Linked DNA regions of Homo sapiens: regions 1 and 3 are each linked to region 2. Evidence: fine-mapped expression QTL. A gene starts in region 2. Each other region holds a variant in brackets. All regions are shown on one strand. Distances are from middle to middle.

Region 1 (4,000 bases), 26 kb before region 2:
CTCTACATTTGGCTCCCTATTAGATATGGTCTTATTTTCTGCCTTACAAAGTGTGGTTATACGTAGATAATTAAATTTAGCTTATAGACAATTCAATTTAGCTTCTTTTTTTGACCAAACAAATATGGTGGGGTTGGCAACCTCTTAGATGACCTCCAGTGATCTCTATGTGCTACAGATTTATACCCTTGTCTATAATCTCCTTTTTTTTTTGTTTTTTTTTTTTTTTGAGTGTGAGCTGAACAATTCAACTCACTTTTTTAAAACAGTGTATGGCAGAACTGATGTGGTGGCACATCTGGGGTTATAAATAAAAACTGTGGCGTGGCTCATGCCTGTAATCCCAGCACTTTGGGAGGCTGAAGCAGGTGGATCACCAGAGGTCAGGAGTTCAAGACCAGCCTGGCCAACATGGTGAAACCCCATCTCTACTAAAAACACACAAAAAAATTAGTCAGGCATGGTGGCACACACCTGTGGTCCCAGTCAGGAGGCTGAAGCAGGAGAATCGCTTGAACTTGGGAGGCAGAGGTTGCAGTGAGCCGAGATTGTGCCACTGCACTCCAGCCTATGTGACAAAGCAAGTCTCCATCTCAAAACAACAACAACAAAAACAACAAACTGTGGCTTCTGTTTTGGGTGCCGAATCTCATGCCCTTTCTTGGATGTCTTTAAATGGGGGGAAGCCAGCTTCCATGTCATAAGGAAGCCCCGTGGAAAGGCACAAGTGGCAAAGATCTGAGGCTTGCCAACAGCGATGTGAGAGAGCCTGAAAGTAGATCCTCTTTCAGTTGAGCCTTAAGGTTACTGCAGCCCAGGCTGACATGTTGATTGCAGTTACATGAGAGACTGTGAACCAGAATCACCCAGCTAAGCTGCTCCTAGATTCCTGACCCACAAAAACCATGAGATAATAAATGTTTGTTGTCCTCAGCCACTAAATTTTGGAGTAATATTTTATGCAGCAGGAGACAATTAATACACCTGGTTTGGTGCATTAATCAGGGTAATCAGGCTGGGTCATGGAAGGAGTGTTTGATATATAGCAATGTTGTGATTGAGATAATAAACTTTTATTTATTGAAGAGTAAAATAGTACATTAACAAAATCTTATCTGATAGAGAGATAATACCAGAAGTCTTCTTACTGTGATTATCAGCTAAGTGACTGGTTGAAATCAGGATATAAATCACTGGATAGTTTTTTTCTGGAAAGACTTAGAACACATCAATAAGGCCCTCTAATAAAGAAATTGAAATGAGATCTTGCCCTTTGGAGAAAGAGAACTGTGTAATTCCTGTAGCCAGGGCACTTAGTCAAAGAGAAACAGAGGGTTGTGACAATGGTCCAGTGAGCCTGGCCCCAGAACTCCCTTCAACTAGTCTCTTGCTTGACTTTGGGGAGAAGACTGGGCATTATTTAGAGGCTGGAGACTAATTCGACAATGGGAAGATGCAAAAATTCATATCCTGGGTTCACCCTTTGATGTTGGGCCATTAAATCCAGTTTGTCTTTGCCTCTCTTGTCTAAAAGATGCTCAGATATTAGTTTCACCACTTTGAGAGACATGGCTGCTGCCGTCAGTGAGTGAAAGATTGTCTTGCTGCCTGAGATGGGATGTGCCTGGCCAACACCCACTTCTCTGGTTGTATAAGACAGGGACCTAAAAAGGGAAAGGATGGGAGGAGGATCATCCTGCAGTGATCATGTAGGGCTTCATGCTATAAATGGTTTTGCATTTCCGGAGATGAAACAAGTCTCTTCACCACAG[G/A]ACTACTGCAGATCATAGCCCTATGGTCTGGCTGGTTTTGTCAATCTGGCAGTTCAGGGTCAGTGCAAAGGACATCCCCAACACCTGTGAAAAGAGTTGGGAAAATTTGAAGTCTTCATAAGAAAAGCCATTTCTTTCACAATGCCTGGGATTGGCCTCTGAGAAAAAGAATGTATCCATTACACTGAAACCACCCTTCCAACCATTACTTTCAAGTCTCTCTCAGGAGCTCTTTCCTTTGGTTAAAGAATAGCAGTGAGGAGAGAAACGGGGTCAATGATGACAAGATAACAGGCTGTAAAGTACTGGAGCATGTTTTATCTTCTGAGGAAGTCACAGAAGCCTTGCTGCTAGGATGGTCATATTCTGCTCACTGAACACTGTGCAATGAGTTATCTCTATCCATGCTCTGTGCCTCCTTTGTTTCCAAACAGAGAAAAATCATTTTCTCTGAGCTTCCTGATTGAGTTTTAACTAATCTATGATATACCCAACACTTTGGGTAGAAAAATGTTAGAAATATCACATTATTTTTGTCCTTTTTTATTAAAAAGGACAAAAAACTACCCTCAATTCACCCATCACTTGTCAAACTAAGCACAGAAACAAAGAGGAAATTGATTACAATTTTCGTCATCAGCCCCTTAACATGCAAGATCAGGTTTTCAAATGAAATACTTTATCAATTCGTATTTTTCAGACCAGCTGAGGAGGGATCACAGTGGGATTCTGCTTGGTGGCTTTTTTGTTTGACTGTGAATCATGTGAATCACTCATATCTCTGAGGAATGAATTGACCAGAGAGATGTTCTTTTTTTTTTTTTTTTTCTGGAGACAGAGTCTCGCTCTGTCGCCCAGGCAGGAGTGCAGTGGCACGATCTTGACTCACTACAAGCTCCGCCTCCCAGGTTCACGCCATTCTCCTACCTTAGCCTCCCAAGTAGCTGGGACTACAGGCACCTGCCACTACGTCTGGTTAATTTTTTGTATTTTTAGTAGAGACGGGGTTTCACCATGTTAGCCAGGATGGTCTTGATCTCCTGACCTCGTGATCTGCCTGCCTCAGCCTCCCAAAGTGCTGGGATTACAGGCGTGAGCCACCACGCCCGGCCAAGAGATGTTCTTATAGCACATTTTCTATATACCTTAAAGCAAATTGTTAATTACATTATTTGCTACTTGGCTGGGGGAATTCATATATTAGTAAAAATAGCTAACATTTATTGTGTAAATACTGTGTACCTGGTATTATTCTGAAATCTTACCTGACTTAACTCATGTAATCCTCACAATAACCCTGTGGTTAAGCTCTTACCTCAATCACACATACACAGATGGTGATGATTCCGATATACAGGAAATTGGAATGAAACCACAGTCTTGCTTTCGCATAGCAACCCTAGAAGACATTTCAGTTACAAATGATACTACTCTATAATTCCACCATATCAAGAGGAAGTATTTGGAAGATACAGTGCTTTGCATTTTGCTTTATGTAATACAAAGAGGCTTAGGTATTATATTTTTATTTTCTTTGCGTGAATGAAGAAACAGGCATAAGGTGGGAAATATTAAACTACAGACTTTTCTGGTGGTGTTATCATTACAGTGGTAACTAATGTAGAAGTCCTAGATCCTTACCCGCTGAGTTAAACTAGCTTCTAAGAGGCAGGTCAGCAACCGACGTCCTACTGTCTTTGAACACTCAGTGCTGACCAGAGATTAACATAGGGCATGCAATACTAAAATTGGTTTGCATTTCACTTTCTGCTTCAACATTCAGTAAATCCATCATAGCCCTACCAAGTGCCAGGGCAGTTGCTGGTCAGTGGTTGTCCTAGTCTTTCTCCACAAACCTGAAAAACCCTGGAGATTTCCAAACCCCTTCAGGAGCAGATAACATGAGGAGACAAGACCTCAGGGATTCGGTCTAGTTGGAAGATAGTTGTGGCTTCTTCTCAGAGCCTATTCTGGAGGTCCAAATTAATTGGACAGGTTGTTTCAGTAGTTCCACTAACTCTGTCTCCCTCAACTCCTTACTCCTTCACCTATGATTCATTTCCCTAAGGGGCTGGATTCTGCCATCTCCAAGGAAGAAGAGCAGAGAAAGAGGGAGAGGGAGAAACTTTTCTATCTCAACCCTATACATTTCACTTTAACCATAAGGAGACCTACTTCTTGCTTAAGAAATATCTAGACACAACCCTCTCCTACTTTCACACAAAAGT
Region 2 (4,000 bases):
TTGCACTGTATTTGTATATTGCTGTGACTGTCATCCATAATAAACTCTACAACTCCTTTCAGATGATAATCTTTTCTGTTATCCTGTATCTCCAGCACCAAGTGCCATATCTGGCCATGGGGTAGGAGTGGGAAAGGAGAACCAGAGTCCGAGGGCCTCTGTGCAGTCAGAGGTCAATCAGAGGGCACAAAAAACCAAGGACCAACAGACTTTGTCCTTTCCAGTTTGTGCCTCTTGTCAGTGAACAAAGGTGAGGTCACTTAGGTGGTGGTAACCATAGCTGTGAAGGCATGAACTTGGAATCATTCCTCATGAATATAAAGGTACCCAATCCTTTCATTTAAAAATTAAGTGTTCTTAACTGGCCCACACAGGAAACATCACAGGAAATAATGTTTCAGTTCAGTCTTTGCTCCCATTCAACCACAATTTCAAAATAGTACAGATTCTCCTCAAGATTGAGAAAGCAAAACCTCTTTGTTTGTCCAGCAGCTGGGAGTTTGCTTTTTCTCAGCTTTCTTCCAAAGCACACGCATAGTATGATATCTCTTATCTCCCATGGGAGTTCCTTAAGAGTAGGACTGTTTGCTAGACAAATATTCTCCTTCTACCTTTTCATCTCCCTCCCCCACAATTCCCAAAGCACAGTGCCTGGCCTCAGGAGGCACCTACCACTTGATTATTAAGTGAATTTATTTAAAAGACTGCTTTTTATTTTTTAATACAAGGCTCAATAAACTCTGAGGTGTTTTGGGAATCCAGAGCCCTCTCCCCGTCCCCACCCCTCTTGGAAATCTAGAGCCCTCTGCCCTGTTCCCAATCCTCATACTTAGATGGGTGGGTGTAATCAAAGAGAACTTTCTCCTTTCTGCTCCAGGGCATAATCAAGTGAAATTCTCACAGGTCTTGGAAGAAGAAAGCTCTTACATAGAGTTTCCGATGGTGGTCACAGAGAGTCAGGACCGAAGCTCTGCTAACACTTTGCTGAGTCCATGCAACCTCAGTCATTAGTTACAGCACATGATTGGAAATTACTGCAGTATCAAGTTTTGGGGATTGCATTTTATACGTGCATTTCATGTGACATTTATCAGTGGTCATGTTTTGTACACCAAGGATAATTTGGGGAAATGCTGAGGATCCCAATGTGCTTCCTGCTCCTTAAAAGCCAACAATCTATGCATCCTTTAGAGATGTCTAGCTTTCACCTTTTAAAATACAGTTACTGAGCACATCCTGGTGTTTTGATTTTTAGCCACCTTTCTATTTAGTGGCTTTGAAGAACCACAGTGGGAGTCACTAAATTTACTTTTGAAATTTTCTCAAATGAAAAAGAACTGTGTCTTCTAGCTGTCTTTCTAAAGACAGCTCTGGCTGTGGGTTCTTTCCTCACTTTAAAATCACAAGACCAATTTTCTGAAGACCAGAGCACATAGGAAATCTCCCCAATGTCATCTCGCATAGAAAGCTCCAGGCATCAGGAATTACTACACAGAGTAATTCAAGCTCTGAAGCAATTAAGGCATGTGAATGCCTCGACTCAGAGATTTAGATAATGGGAACCTGATTAAGTAAAAGTATTTCTGGCCTGATTGCCTTTGGGGATGTTACTAGGATCTTGCTAATCTGTTTTACTTTGTGCACTAAATATTTGTGAAAGAGAAGTTGCCGGAGATTTTATGGTTACTAGAGAGGTATATGGAGACCCCTAAGAATACGCCCTACCCCACATTAGACAGCAAGCCAAGTTAAAACGTCATCAACCTTACCTTTTCCAGGCACCGTTCCTCAGTCCTTTCGGCAGAATTTAGTGATTATCCTTGAGGTGGCCGAGACAAGGCTGGTAACACAGATATCCGGGGCTATTTGTGTAAAAGGAGAAGTGAAGGGTGAAAAAATATGATCATGCTGTGACGACAGGAAGCCCAGATGAGAAGAAGGAGGAAGTGAGGCTGAGTCCGCCCTCTTTAGTCTCAGAGATTTAGTACTTTCCCAGTGGCTTTTTAGAAGCTTCCTCTCACAGCCCACCCTAAACTAGTTTTGTGAAACAAAAGAAAACTTCAAAACCAAGTTGGTTCAGGCACAGATCTGTGAGCAGTGGTGGATTCTAGGGTAATTTGGCAATGATTTTTGCTTAGAAAAGGACAGTGCTTCTCAATCAAGGTGGCATCTCAGAATTAACTGTGTATTTGTTCAAAAAGAAGTATGCCTGGCCCCACCACCAGTTTCCCATTCAGGTAGACAGACTGGAGGGGAACACAGGAACCAATATTTCTAAACATTTTCTAGGCCCGAGACTTTGGAATGTCTTTCTGAAGATTCTCTGCCCCCTCCTCATACTCCCTCTGTCTGGCTTCAGCCAGTCTCTAGACTTGAATTGGACACCATTTGCAGACTTCTCTGTCTCGAGAGCAAGACTGTCTTAAGGTGAGTCCCCAAGGCATAATCCCAGGGGCACTGGTAGAAATGATTTGGTTAGTACAGGAAACACCACATTTGGAGCCAAAGATCTGAGTTTCAGTTCCAGCTTTATCTCTTTTAGCTGTGAGATCTTGAGCAAGTCTCAATCTGTCAGCCTCAGTTTATTAATGGTAACACCTAATAATAATCCTACTGGTTACTGTTACATCCTTATTTATATACAAGAAAACAGGCGCTCAAAGAGGTTAGAAAATTTGCCCAAGCTCATACAACTAAGACATGTCAGAGGTAGGATTAAAATTCAAGGTCACAGAGAAGGCCTTTTGAGAAACACTGTGATCAATATATTTTGAAAAATGTGTTTCTGGTTTCACTATGCTGCATCACTGGAATTTTCTTAGATTGGGTCAAAGGAGTATGTGACAACCCAAATGTATCACTAGCTAACTATGAAACTTGGAAGCAATCACTGGGCCCCAATGTTTTCATCTTATAAATGAACAGATAGATGCACTCTGCGGTGCTGACTTGCGGGCATGCCTCTGGGAAAGCTAGCTGTCTCCCGCTTCCTTCACCCTGAGACATTCAGATCCAGAGTAATCTCCAGCCAGGGCTGTCTTGTGGGGAAAACTGAATTAAATGAAGGTAAAAAGGTCTTTACTGCAGAACTTGTCAGTCCTTAATATTCTCTAAGCAGGGGAAATAATATATAGATTTCTCCAAACTTATCTGAGCATGGAACTGTGTGGTGTGTGTGTGTGTGTGTGTGTGTGTGTGTGTGTAGTTTCTCTTGGGGAACAATTTTTCAGTGTAACTACACTTTAGGGAATGCTATTAAAAAGTCTCTGCACCTCGGCTGGAATCACTGACCCTCACTCAGAGCTGCTGCCATGCTTACAGGTCCCTGAAGTGGTGGGGCTGAGGAGAGGCTTCTGGCTGAACTCATATTTTCCTAATTATCTCACCCATTCTGATGGCTCTAATTACTATCTGTCTGTTCCAAAGATTCACAAATCTATATAGATGCCATGATCTCTCCTTTGAGCTCCACTCTCTCCCAGGCACCTCAAATCCAATATCCAACTTCAGTTTGATTAACTTGGCATCCCCACACTCAAGCCTGCTCCTCCCACCATGTCCACCATCCAGGAAAGGCCTGACTGGCCTTTCAGCCACGTTCATGAGAAACCAGGTGTCCTCTTAAGCTACTCTCTCTCCCACACCACCACCTATTATCAGCCACCAAGTCCTGTCAGTTATGCTTTTGCCTAAATATTTCTCAAACCAGACCACCTCTCTCCAACCCCATAGAAATTACATTAGTCTTTATCTTTTACCTGTGTTACAGGATCCCAGTGTCCTTCAAGACCACCTTGGATGTTTCTTCAGTCTGTCCTCAGGAAGAAGGGAGGAGAGCCTTCTAAAATGCAAATTTAATCACATGACTCCCCAGCTTAAAACTCTCAGCCGGCTATTTCTTCCCCGGCCCCACCCCCAAGATCTCCTCACACTGGGTAACACTGGATATGGAATTCCTTTTAGTTGCTTAAACAAATCAATCTAGTTCTGTCTCACGAGC
Region 3 (4,328 bases), 20 kb before region 2:
AAAATAAACCTATTCATGTTAGAAAAGGATGAAAGAGAGAATGTAGAGAACTTTGTACTAATCAGACTAATTACTGGGCTCCCATGTTTGTGATAGCCAAGGCATTATTCTGGGATTCAGGGATGTGGACCTTAGATTCTGAAACTTCCAGAAAAAGGAACTAGCCCCCAAGGATTTAGGCTTGAAAATGAAGTCTGGGCTGATCTGAAGAGGATTCCACCTGTACTCACAAATGACTGGATGGAGTCCCACGCTGCCTTGGTGCTATTGTCTGAGTGGTAACGGTGGATGCTGTCGGTCAGACCCTTAGCCACATACTCATTCAGCTGGGCAGGCACATTCCAGCAGAGGAGACATGGTAAAAAGCAGGTGAGTTCAAGGAATAAGGAATTTCCAGTATAGGTTAGTGGTTCCACTTGCGCTTCCCTTCCAAATGGTCTCCTCAGAACTAAGGGTGAGGGGAGGGTGTTTATCTATGGGCATACAGGCTGAGCATGAGGTGGCATTGAAGGAAGAAGTATTTAGTAGGCTTGCTTCCTTCTAGAGCTCTGGCTTTACAAGGGAGGAAAAGGAGCAATTAAAGCAAGGGCTATCCTTAGGCACTGAGGCAGACATTCTCTCCTGCCAAACACACAGAGGAAAGCAAGTAGAGGAAGAGACACTTGTTTTACTGCTCTTTCCAGGCACCCCTCAAGATACCACTCAGATACAATCTCTTTCATACAAATTTTCCCCCCAATTACAATTACTCTCTGTTTCCTCTATCCTTCCACTTCATTTCTATCTCTATTATAGAACTTATTCTGTAACTTTGTACCAACTTCTCCACTGCATACTCCCCACTTTCAGTATTAAGACAATAAGTTGTTGTCTTTATAACTTACCTTCTGTTCATATACAAAGAGCAGGATGGCCAAGGTCACCTCAGCAAGGAGGATAATCAGCAGCAGGATGAAGAACTGGGACAAAGCAGATACATTCTCACAGCACTGATCCCCATTCTCGTCCCACTCCCACTCAGCTCTGGGAGCATCCAGGGGCATTTGCACGAGTACAGGGTGTTCCTGTTCTGCCTCCTCAGGCCGTTGTAAGCCTTCTTTTGTTTTGTGAAAATATGTGTTCTTTTTCTACAATTAGACTCTAGAGGGCAGATCAACTGTCTTCTTTGCTCTCTCCTACCTGCTGTGCCTATCAGAGCACTACATGCATAATACATACACACCACCACCTGTTGAATAAGTTAAGCAATTTTGACATCTGCCTATTGAAGCAGTTAAGCAAAAGGTTGGTAAACTAGATCATTTGGGGCCTGGTCCTTTCTACAAGATCAGGGATACCTCTGGGTGGAGGACTGCTGGTAGTGGCTGAGAGGAGCCCTGTACAATGGTAGAAAGAAGGGTCCTAGCCATGGTTCTAACTCATATTTGTTTCCAGCTTTCGATGCTTACTCCTTTTATGCTAATAACACACAACAGAAAACATTTTCACTTATTCCTTCTCCTTCACCTTTTTTACCCCAACATTAATTTTGACTGCTTAAAACATTT[G/A]CCTTACCCCATGTCTGCTATCTTCCATCCTTTGCCATTAGTCTGACAACTATCTGAGAAGAGGGACTTTTTAAAAAATTCTTTCTCTTGGCTCCAGTTTAAGAGTTGACCCATACAGACTGGGCGCAGTGGCTTACGCCTATAATCCCAACACTTTGGGAGGCCGAGGCAGGTGGATCACCTAAAGTCGGGAGTTAGAGACCAGCTTGACCAATATGGAGAAACCCTGTCTCTACTAAAAATTCAGAATTAGCCGGACATGGTGGCGCATGACTGTAATCCCAGCTACTCGGGAGGCTGAGGCAGGAGAATGGCTTGAACCCGGGAGGCGGAGGCTGTGGTGAGCTGAGATCATGCCATTGCACTCCAGCCTGGGCAACAAGAGTGAAACTCCATCTCCAAAACAACAACAAGAAGAAAAAAACAAAACAAAAAACCACCACCAAAATGTTGAACCATAATGGAAAAAAGATTAACCAAATGATTTAAGGAAGAACCAATGTGATTAGAAACCCACGCCTATTGGTAGAGTGGCACTGTTACACCAAGCTCTGTTCTGGGAACACTACAGAAATGTAGAGCTCAGTGCTCTACAGGCACTGTGCTTACAGGCAAAACCTAAGCCTTAAGGTACTCCTCAGGATAGTACCTGATAGGGAACATGCAAAAGGCTGTAGCATCTCTCACATTAGACCTCAATGGCTGCAGCCAGAGCCCTCACCTAAGTTGGATCTCTCTACGGAGTATCTTGTGCAGACATGAGTTAAGGAAGCATCCTTTGGCATTTGGGGAGGAAAGAGCCTAGAAATTATTTTCCATTAGTTAGCGACTCTCAGTCAGAATCTGAAAGTACATAATAATAGCTAGCATGAGGAGGATTTTGGAAGATGGATGACACCTGATTTCATCCAGACATAAAGAAAAAATAAAATGCTATAAAGGGGAATTACAATAATGACAAAAGTCATTATTAGCAATATAAAAATGGCTACAAGGGGGATAGCAATGCCCTCTTTCACCTGTCCGTGGGACCCTAGTCATACATAATATACTATTGGTCTGGGCAGACTTGGCTGATCTGAGGTACCAATCTCATTTTCCTATGATCTTTCTGTGCCTATAAGTGATCTACCAAGAAACATCTTGCCTGGGATTTAGGCACCATCTCCCCGACTTGGGGCACCACATCTGCTGTAAGGACTCACCGACATAAGCAGACACTTGTTTTCCTTGATAGAGCCCATGCAGCCCAGGAAGGCAACTACCATGATAATAGAGCCCACGATGACAAACACATTGCCCAGCGTGAGGGAGGGGAGGTTATGGAAGAGCACTCCGAAGTTGTTGTGGATCAGCAGGTAGATCCCAAAGCCCAAAATGCAGCAGCCACAGATCTGAAAGGAAGAATCCCACAACATCCTGAAGCAAAATGTGGTTCTTGGGTATCTCCTCATATTCTCACTTCCTTGAGATCAGAATCACTTTATTTTTAACTGGCTCAATCAAGAGTCTCATGAACAATTTCTTTACCAAACTTTTCCATGCTTACATTGGAGAGGCAATCTCAGCTTTCTCATGTGGAGACCTACTCACAACTCTTCCTACCCATCTCCAGATACCAAGGAAAGATCACTTCTGTGAGCCACACAGTATCTTCACCATATATAGGTCTAACTTCTTTTTCCTTATCTTTTCAGTCGCTCACACATGGCTTTCTCTGTAGAAACCATGACCATGTAGAGAAGATGCCCTGCTTGAGGAAGCTCATCTTGCTAGGCAGAAAACTAGAGAAGCCAAACTTATAATAATCTTCTCATATACACAAGTACCAACCCATCCTATATCTGAAATTCAATTGCTGAATTTTATACAGTGAAACCTCCCTGGAAAGGGTGACTTTCCTTTCAATCACTTATTGTTTCAAGGAATCTAGAAAAAAAGACAAGAAAAACAGAGGCACTCAATATCCAGAGCACAGTCTCAGGTTTCTCACCTATATATGTTAGCTACGAGTAGTAGTAAACTAAAGCCCTCAGAGAGAAACAGCACCTCCATTAATAACTGCACTGGTACCTTTCAATTTTGCAGGTTTATTCTGTGGCAGGAAGAGGGGAAAAATTATTACTCTTTTGTTTCTAGGATGGTTGTGCTGGACATGACCCAAACACGCATGCATTTTACCCCACACCAGCCTCTTCAGTAGAGGAATGAGGAGAGCTTAGCTGGGTAAAGGTGAGCTAAACCGTGCTCAGAAGAGATACACTTACCCAAAAGAGCAAGTTGAAGAAAAACAGGACATACTTCAGCAGTTTCAAGCTACTCATGCCCATGCCGTGATATTCTTGCCCTAAGGAATAAGGAAGAAGAAAGTAAGTTACCTCACTCTGTAAGGTAGCCAGAGATCAGAGTGCACAAATGTTCAGGGATCTCTAGCATTACCTTGGGTTTGAGCTGTGGCTCTCCTCTGGAAAGTTTCCCCAAACTCTGCGCTTTCCTAGTTCTAAACTGAAATACCAACTGGCTCATCTTAGACATTCAGTTTTTGCCCAATTCGGCAAGCCAACAATGCTTAACATTGAATTAAGTATTGTAGAAGAAAATAGAGCCATTCTTAGAAGAGGATGAGTCACAGTGACAGAGACCAGGCCAGTGCTTTAGCTCTAACTGCAGCATTAGCAACTAGTGCCTGGGCACTTAAGCCCTTGAAGTCAGGGATGGACTGGTCAATCAGCCATCAAGAAAGCCAACAGCTTGATCAGCCAGTTTCTTAAATACTCTGTG

Evidence for each region. PIP is the estimated chance that this variant, and not a neighbour inherited with it, causes the effect.
Region 1: its variant is the best candidate, but not a certain one, in a credible set for the expression of CD53 in whole blood (TOPMed, PIP 0.79).
Region 3: its variant is the best candidate, but not a certain one, in a credible set for the expression of CD53 in whole blood (INTERVAL, PIP 0.59).

Annotation. Positions count from the first base shown.
Region 1 is chr1:110,896,980-110,900,979 of GRCh38, reverse strand. It overlaps CD53 (CD53 molecule), which reads right to left. Exons shown (of 8, transcript NM_000560.4): 7 at 3,088-3,171; 8 at 1,058-1,856. The coding sequence ends at 1,785. It also overlaps a transcript of LRIF1 not described here. Among named protein-coding and RNA genes, the nearest start is that of CD53, 26 kb to the right of the region's middle. The variant G/A (reference allele first, on the strand shown) is at 1,773.
Region 2 is chr1:110,871,018-110,875,017 of GRCh38, reverse strand. CD53 (CD53 molecule) reads right to left here and starts at 1,870. Exons shown (of 8, transcript NM_000560.4): 1 at 1,770-1,870. It also overlaps a transcript of LRIF1 not described here. RefSeq lists enhancers at 348-397, 1,910-2,019, 2,620-2,669.
Region 3 is chr1:110,890,958-110,895,285 of GRCh38, reverse strand. CD53 (CD53 molecule) reads right to left here. Exons shown (of 8, transcript NM_000560.4): 2 at 3,815-3,894; 3 at 2,753-2,941; 4 at 885-959; 5 at 231-326. The coding sequence starts at 3,877. It also overlaps a transcript of LRIF1 not described here. Among named protein-coding and RNA genes, the nearest start is that of CD53, 20 kb to the right of the region's middle. The variant G/A (reference allele first, on the strand shown) is at 1,548.